Linked DNA regions of Homo sapiens. The protein of the gene in region 1 interacts with the protein of each later gene in a biochemical or structural test. Each region holds a gene or a part of one and is shown on either strand. Other genes may lie near its edges.

Region 1 (4,177 bases):
GTTGGCAACCACCAGAAGCTAGCAGAGAAGCCTGGAAAAGATTATCTCTCAGAGACCCCAAGAGAGAACCAAGCTTACTTTCACCTTGATTTTGAACTGGTCTTCAGAACTGTGAGACAATAAATTTCTGTTGTTTTAAGCCACCGAATCTGTTTTAATTTATATGGCAAGCCTAGGACACGAATACACACACTTGAACATATTCTAGCACAGACAGTTCTTATCTAAAACATGTTTTTCAACAAGAGATAAAGAAACAGGCCAGGACCGGTGGCTCACGCCTGTAATTCCAGCACTTTGGGAGGCCGAGGCGGGTGGATCGCCTGAGGTAACGAGTTTGAGACCAGCCTGGCCAATATGGCGAAACCTTGTCTCTACTAAAAATGCAAAAATTAGCCGGGCATGGCGGCGCATGCCCGTTGTCCCAGCTACTCAGGAGGCTAAGGCGGAAGTTCCAGTGAACTGAGATCGCACCATTGCACTCCAGCCTTGGGGAACAGAGCGAGACTCTGTCTCAATAAATAAATAAATAAATAAATAAATAAAAATAAGAAAAGAAAAAGAAAGATGGCCTATTTGTGGAACTTCTTCTAGGTACTGAATATTCATTCTAGCAATACCCAACTTACAATTTCAAAAGTGCATTGTTTCAAGTTCTCCTGCTTTTTAAGAAGTTAAGGCTGGCCTAGGAGATCCAGACTTCGTTTTTATGAATCAGGGACTGCAGCCAATGTGTAATTTTCTCTGATAGAATGAGACCCTGCAATTCAAGCCTATCTTTCAGGGAGAGTGTAGAAAGTGATGGTAGCCAACACTGTACAAGGAAACTGAACTGGTGGTGGTGGTAGTAGAGTAGCTTCAGCCATTGCCATCAACACATCTCACATCCTCAGACTGGCTCCAGTTGAGGCCATGGGATAAAATAACTCTTCACCAGTCTTTATGTTCATAATTGTGATGTTTCATCTGCTACTTTAAAATCTCCTTGGGAAAAGAGAGAGTAAAATAATAAAAAGACTAGCTAGCATCCATGAGCACAAAGACAACCAAACCAAAAAACAAAGTGATTTTCTTCATTAAAAGGCTTTGTGCACGCCGAAGCATTCTCAAAAACAGTTGACATCTTCTTCGTTTGTCTTCGCAAACTCCAACTTTCTGTATTTGGCTTTTCCCTCTTAAAGCAACGCAAAGCGGCACACTGCGCAGGCGCCTGTGGCCAGCCACCCCCCCCCCCCCCCCCCCGGAAGATTCGGCGCAGGCGCCGGTGCCGGGGCCGGGAAGTGGGCGGGCTCGCGCGCGTGCTCTGCGGTTCACTTCCGGCCAGCCCCTCCCCCGCCTCCCTCGCGTGGCCACCTCCCCCTCTGCCTTCTCCTACCCAGTCTCTTCCCCAACTCTCCCCACCCCTGGTGCTCTCCGCCCCGCTTGCCTCCCGTTCTTCCCCGCCCGCTCCATCCGGGTCGCTGACGGCTGTCTCTGGACTGGACAGCAGTGGCGTCCGCTTTTCTCTAAGGAACCCGGTAAAGTTTCCCAGGGGCCGGGGAGGGGAGCAGCGGAGCAGCGGCACAGACGCCGGAGGTGCCCTGGTGATCGTCGCCACTGGCTGACAGAGGAGGGTCCCAGGAGCCGGAGACGTGCTTCAGCGACCGCGCTGCCTTGCTCTCTGGGCAGGGGCCGCCCCCCGTCACCTTGGGCTTCCCCTACCCTGAAGGGCTTGGGCGAGTTGTGGCCCCAGCGGGTTCGGGGGCGTGTGACGGCGTTAGGGAGGGGCAGGCCGGGCTGGGCGGATGCAGGCCGGCCCGGCATAGGGCGCTTTCTCCGCGCTTCCTGGGGGTGAGGGGCGTGGGGCGAGGGCAGGGCTGTGGCTCCCTGGCCCCGGGGCTGGAATGTCTCATCTGCCTGGGGATGGGCTTCTCTCAGGTTGAGGCCGCGCACTGCCAAGCCTCGGCCGCCGGCCTCTGAAGCTGTTGCGAGCGGCCGGTTGCGGTAGTCGTCTGCTTGGCTGCGAGGTTGGGTGTGTGCAGATGATTTCTCTTTCCCAGTCCCCATGAGCTGATCTGGGTGCACGTTCAGGGAAAGACGGGACTAAACTGCTTCTCATTTCCCTACCTGTTGCTGGCGAGAGGACGCCTCTGTGTTTTAAAGAAAAGGGTGGTTAAACCTCGCGCGCTGAAGTCGGGGTATTTTCCTGTATTACTCTTATTTTGTTTTTAAATATGGGAAGACAATGCAGAACTCTTGGGAATTATCGAGTTCTGATACCCCAAAAGAATGAAATCAAACTTCTGTTAATGGGATGATGGGTCGTGGAATGGGACACCTTGGGCACTTGCTAACAGGAACATAGGAAAATTGGAGTTGAAACTTCGCAGGCTCTGTAAGAATGTGGATGACTGCTACAGAATAAGGCTGACTTCCTGTAATTATGATATTTAGTAACGCGATGTGTTTAAAAGTCTACGTATGTATAGATGAAGTGGACTCTGTTATTTGTGTCTTTCTTTACAAGTGAGGAAATATTCAGTCAGTGTGCTGGAAAGTTCTACAGATTTCGCCATCAGACTATCCATTCCTATTCTTGAAAAATCTGCAGTGCTGGAGTTATTTGCAATTCCCCCCCGCCAATCTTTAAATAATTGTCTCAGAGATATAGATAGATATAGATTGCCCACGGGTGATTTTTTTAATCCCGGTTACCACTTGTAATAAAAGAGGTTGAATTTTGGAGAGAATTGATATTTAAATTGCATGTTTTTTTTTCTGTATTATAATTATGCACATTGATTTAGTTTTAAAATTAGTGAGGTTGGAATGTTAGTATTTTGATTTGAAATCTGGGATCTTTGGAGGTGATTTAAGATTATGGTTTGGTAAGAGAATCTTCATTTTCTCTCTGGGCTAAAGAGTAATTGGGAGAGTCGTTTAAATTGTGGAAAATTGCTTTAAATTTCCATTATTGGTTTTATTTCTGTTACAGATAAGAACTCCATTTTCTGTTGATGTGGAGGTAGGTATTAGAAAGCTTAATTATACTAGGATTGCAAGGTTATGTTTCTGCAGTTGGCTAAATTTTGCACTGTGTATATTTGCTTTTTGGGCAGAGGAAAGATGTCTTATTTCTTGTTCCCATTGAAATTATTTAAAGCAAAAAGTAGAAAAAATTGTGATTAATTTCATCAAGGTACTTATTCCTATTAGTTTAGTCTATCACAAGATAACCAGAAGTCAAAACTAGTTAATATGTTTTAAATTTTGCAAAGGATCATAGAAAGTGTCATATTTTCCCTAAAAATTTCTGTATGATACATTTTAAAAAATACAACTGATTGGTTTTTGAAACTGAATGATACTTATGTAGCATGTTATAAAGTATATTTAATGTTTACCATGTAGCAATTATTGTAGCCTAGCACTTGAAAGAGCAATTATACATCCTTTTTTCTTTGAAGTCATATTAACTTCTTTCTATTTCCTCAGACATAGGGTACCTCCAACTTTCCGGGGTTTCAGAAGAGAATTTTTTATTGAAACTGGAAGACCAAAATAATTACAAGCATGTTGTGCTGGGGAAATGCATCCTTTGGGCAGCTAGGTTTGGGTGGAATTGATGAAGAAATTGTACTAGAGCCCAGAAAAAGTGACTTCTTTATAAATAAAAGGGTCCGAGATGTAGGATGTGGACTCAGACATACTGTGTTTGTTCTGGATGATGGAACAGTGTACACATGTGGATGTAATGATCTAGGACAGCTAGGTCATGAAAAATCCAGAAAGAAACCAGGTAAGTTGAAATGTTTTTAAAATTTGCTATTTTTAATAATTATATCATTTTAAATTTGAATCATCGTATAATTTCTCTAGTTGTAACTATATGTTTATCAAGCTTTAAAAGCAAAGTAGAAGTTATGTATTTCCATTATATGTGTATATTTGTATGGTTCTAAGTACTTTATGTTGTGGTTTCTTTTTTTTTACTACTAGTATTATAAAACCTTATTTTGTATGACGATATAAAACAATAAAGAAAATCAGCCTGCAGTATATAAATCTTTGGTACAGAGTGTGTAGTGTGCAGGTCCTCTTTAATAAATTCTGTTCAGCCACCCTGGATAGATTTTAAATGCATAATTTACTCTGTGTTTACCTTACTTTGGGAGGGGGGAGGAAAACAAGACGGAAG
Region 2 (3,500 bases), on another chromosome or scaffold:
CAGGGACAAGAGCAGCCCTGGCTGTTGCTTACCGTCTCCAAGGTGAAACTTTGGCCTGGATAGCTCCCCAGAGCCTCAGCCCAAGCACACTTGGATTCTACCAGCCAGCCTCCACCTTTGCCCTAGTAAGATCTTAGCCCACTGCTCCATAGCCCCTGCCAGCGTGAAACCAGAGGGAGGCCTTTGCATGAGTTGGGGCAGAGCATGCCCAGCAGCAATCTACCCGTGGAGCTGGCTAGCAGGCTCTCAGGCCACTAAATTCTCAGGGCCAGACTGCCCAAGCCTTACCACTTAAAACCATTCCATTCATTTTTATCATTTTCCAAAGAGCCACAGATTAACTGTTCATTTCTTTGCTCAGTAGACTACACAATCTCAATTAGAAAAGGGACAAGAGGTCAGATGGTCCCGGCCATCTTCAGGTCCCTAGAGTAGGCAAGGGCTGCACTCACAGGCCAACCCCTCCCATGCAGAGGTGTCTCTGCCACCCACACCCTTTGCCCTGAGCCCTAACACCATCAAGCCTAAAGAAATCTAAAGGACTCATCTTCAAAATCAGACTGGAAGCTCCCAGATTTAAACATTCTGAGCATACTAAATCATTACAAAGCATATCTTTCCTTAGTTATCCAAATGATTATGGAAATAAACTACAAATCCAATAACTGCTGATCAAATTCAGGGACTTAAAAAAAAAAAAGCATGACCTTATAACCAGCATCAAGAAGAAAGCATCTACAGGAGGGAGCATGCTCCATGCTCACCTTATAACCAGCATCAAGAAGAAAGCATCTACAGGAGGAAGCATGCTCCATGCTCACCTTATAACCAGCATCAGGAAGAAAGCATCTACAGGGAGAAATCATCTACAGGAGGAAGCATCTACAGGAGGAAGCATGCTCCATGCTCATGACCTTATAACCAGCATCAGGAAGAAGCATCTACAGGAGGAAGCATGCTCCATGCTCTGCTTTGGCAAAGCAGCCAATCCATCCATGAGAACAAATTATATACAGGACAGCGGCAGGCACAGGGCAAGGGCCAGAGGCTCAGATGTGCAAAGTGGGAATGAAAAGGAACAGAGAAGGTGAGTGGATGAGGAAGAACAGGAAAGGAGGGCACTCACGCAGGACAAGGGTGTGAGCTGAGGTAGCTGAAGGCTACACAATGACCAAGTGAGGCCGCCTGGTGGACAGATGGTGCAGCTTCCGGGGAGAAGGCAGGAATGGAGACAGGTGTGGGAATCCTTCATGTCTGGCATAATCATCTATGATGCCGAAAGTAGTAGGGTCCCGAGACAAAACAGAACAGGAGAACAGCAGGAGACCAACAAGAGTCATGTTTAAGAGTGAGGAGGAAGGAGTGGCAGAACAGGAGCGAGTGGCAGGCTGGTCACAGGACTGGGGGCTGGAATGCTGCCCGTGCTCCAAAAGCTCAGGAGGCAAGCAAGGGCCATGATGCCAGCACTGCCGAGCTAGAGGTGTGACAACAGTGGGGGCAGCCTGTGGGCTGGGTGTGACGTGGTTTCAGGAGAGTGAGAGGAAGGGGGATTGCAAACTGGAGTTAATTATAAGACAAGCCTCTTGAAGGGGAGGGGATCAAAGGATGCAGAAAAGAGTAGGCACTAAGAGGGTGCTAAGGAAAGCCATCGTTAGGAGGGCCTTGAGCCCATCAGAAGGCAGAAGACTGTGAGATGGGGGAGCTGGGCTGTGGGGGCAGACACTGGAGGCATAAGCCCCAGAAAAGACATGGGGTGAGGGGAACATGTGGGCAATTAGGAAAAGGGACTTGAGACAAATGGAAGGCACAGGTTGGAGGGGACCAGGAATAAAGCCCGAAATACAGGTATCCAAAGGGTTAGAGACATGAATGCAAAACCAAGAGAGAAAGCAAAATATCTAGAGGGGAATGCTTGTCCCCTCCTGAGGAGCTCAGAGAAGAAGGTCCTGCTGATCCATCAGGCCAGGCGCAGGGAAGTCAGGAAAGAGCAGGAGCACAGACACACTCCTTTTCTCTGTGTCTACAGATCTGCAAAGCTCAGGACTCCCTGAATTTGACAAAACGAGTGCCAAGATGTGACTCTACTCAGGACCCAAGGCTACACTCCCTACCTTATCACCCTAGAGCGACAGCCACTTCTGTGCATCTGCTGGCTGCCTAGACTAAGAGCCTACTAAGGAGCAGAAAAACAAGCCCAACAGCACACACATCACCTTAAAGAATAATCTGGTAGGAAGTGGAAGTGTTCAATACTCACAGGAACAATAAGCCCTTGCCAAGTCAATAAATTAGCTTCATCAACCTGGATGTTACGGAAGTTTTTCATCCCACATTTGCGGATTTCTTCAAGCTCCTGTTGATTGACAAAGCATAAAGGGGTGTCAAATAGGGGAAAGCACCACATATTAAGATCCCTCCTGATGCCCTCAAATTAAACCAAGTGCCAAAAATGCTAATGACAAAATTGGACAGTGAGGACTAAACTGTGCTTGGAGTGGTTAAGGAGGCATGGAGCTGCCATGGCGGTCCCCTCTGCAAGGTTGTTGCCTCTCCCCATGCCCCAGACCAAGACAAGCCCCCACCTCAGTGAACCCCCCTGAATAGGACAGGGGGAACCATGCTTCTGCAGACGTACCACCTCCTCTTTGGGTTGGTCACCATGGCTGTTTAAATCCCTCAGCACCCTGCATAGGGCAGACATGTGGCAGGAGCTATCCTGAGGTGCTCTACACCTGATACCTTCCAATCAAGATTCATTAAGCACTGATTATGCACCGGATGCTGAGAAGCTAAAGATGAATAAAACTGGGGACTGGGAACAAACCAGACACAAACGCATATCCAGTTTTCTACCCAGTGCTATAAGTGTGATTTCAGAAGGACTCCACCTCAACATGGGCACACAGCAAAGAGAACCATCCAGTCTGGGACTGGGGTGGGAGTGGGGGGGTGGGGACGGGAAACCTTCACTGAGCCTGTTTCCTCAGCTGCAAAACAGACCCAGAGTGCAGAAAAGGAAAGGGAAGCCATGTTGTGGGCAACAGGACCCCTTGCAAATATGTGGGGTTATTGTTGTATAAACAGTCAATGCAGCAAGTGCCATTTCACCCAGAAAGCACAACTTTACGACTTCAGGGTCCTGCCTGAGATGTCTTCAGAACTGTCTGTCACCTGTTTTTCAACTGTGCACCAGCCTGACATTTCCCATTGCCTCCAACATCTCAGTGAATGCCTGGCAGGCGCTATAACCCAAACCACCCAGCAATGCCCTCCTGCCAGAACACCAGCCTCGCCAACATTCCTCCACTCTGACACATGAAGTGCCACTCTACCCGCCTCAGCCCGGCCTCCCATCCAGTGGCACAAAAGCCGCCTCCACACCTGTCAGGCACCTTCTCTTCTGCAGCCCGAGCACCATCCAGCTGAGCCCTGCCTCCTTCGCCAGGCTGCTTCCTCTGGCCCAGCTCCAGCACCCTCCAGAACCTCCTTACGTGGTACTT

The links. Proteins that work in one complex are often made in the same cells at the same time.
Region 2: the proteins of HERC4 (region 1) and UBE2L3 form a complex in vitro, tested with the Homo sapiens proteins (2 studies listed by BioGRID).

The regions. Positions count from the first base shown.
Region 1 is NC_000010.11:68,072,484-68,076,660, reverse strand, and holds the start of HERC4 (probable E3 ubiquitin-protein ligase HERC4), read left to right. Parts: upstream 1-1,377; 5' UTR 1,378-1,517; exon of another isoform or gene 1,518-2,974; 5' UTR 2,975-3,004; exon of another isoform or gene 3,005-3,474; 5' UTR 3,475-3,552; coding exon 3,553-3,778; intron 3,779-4,177. UniProt on the Homo sapiens protein: Probable E3 ubiquitin-protein ligase involved in either protein trafficking or in the distribution of cellular structures. Required for spermatozoon maturation and fertility, and for the removal of the cytoplasmic droplet of the spermatozoon.
Region 2 is NC_000022.11:21,591,714-21,595,213, reverse strand, and holds part of UBE2L3 (ubiquitin-conjugating enzyme E2 L3), read right to left. Parts: intron 2,354-3,500; coding exon 2,258-2,353; intron 1-2,257. UniProt on the Homo sapiens protein: Ubiquitin-conjugating enzyme E2 that specifically acts with HECT-type and RBR family E3 ubiquitin-protein ligases.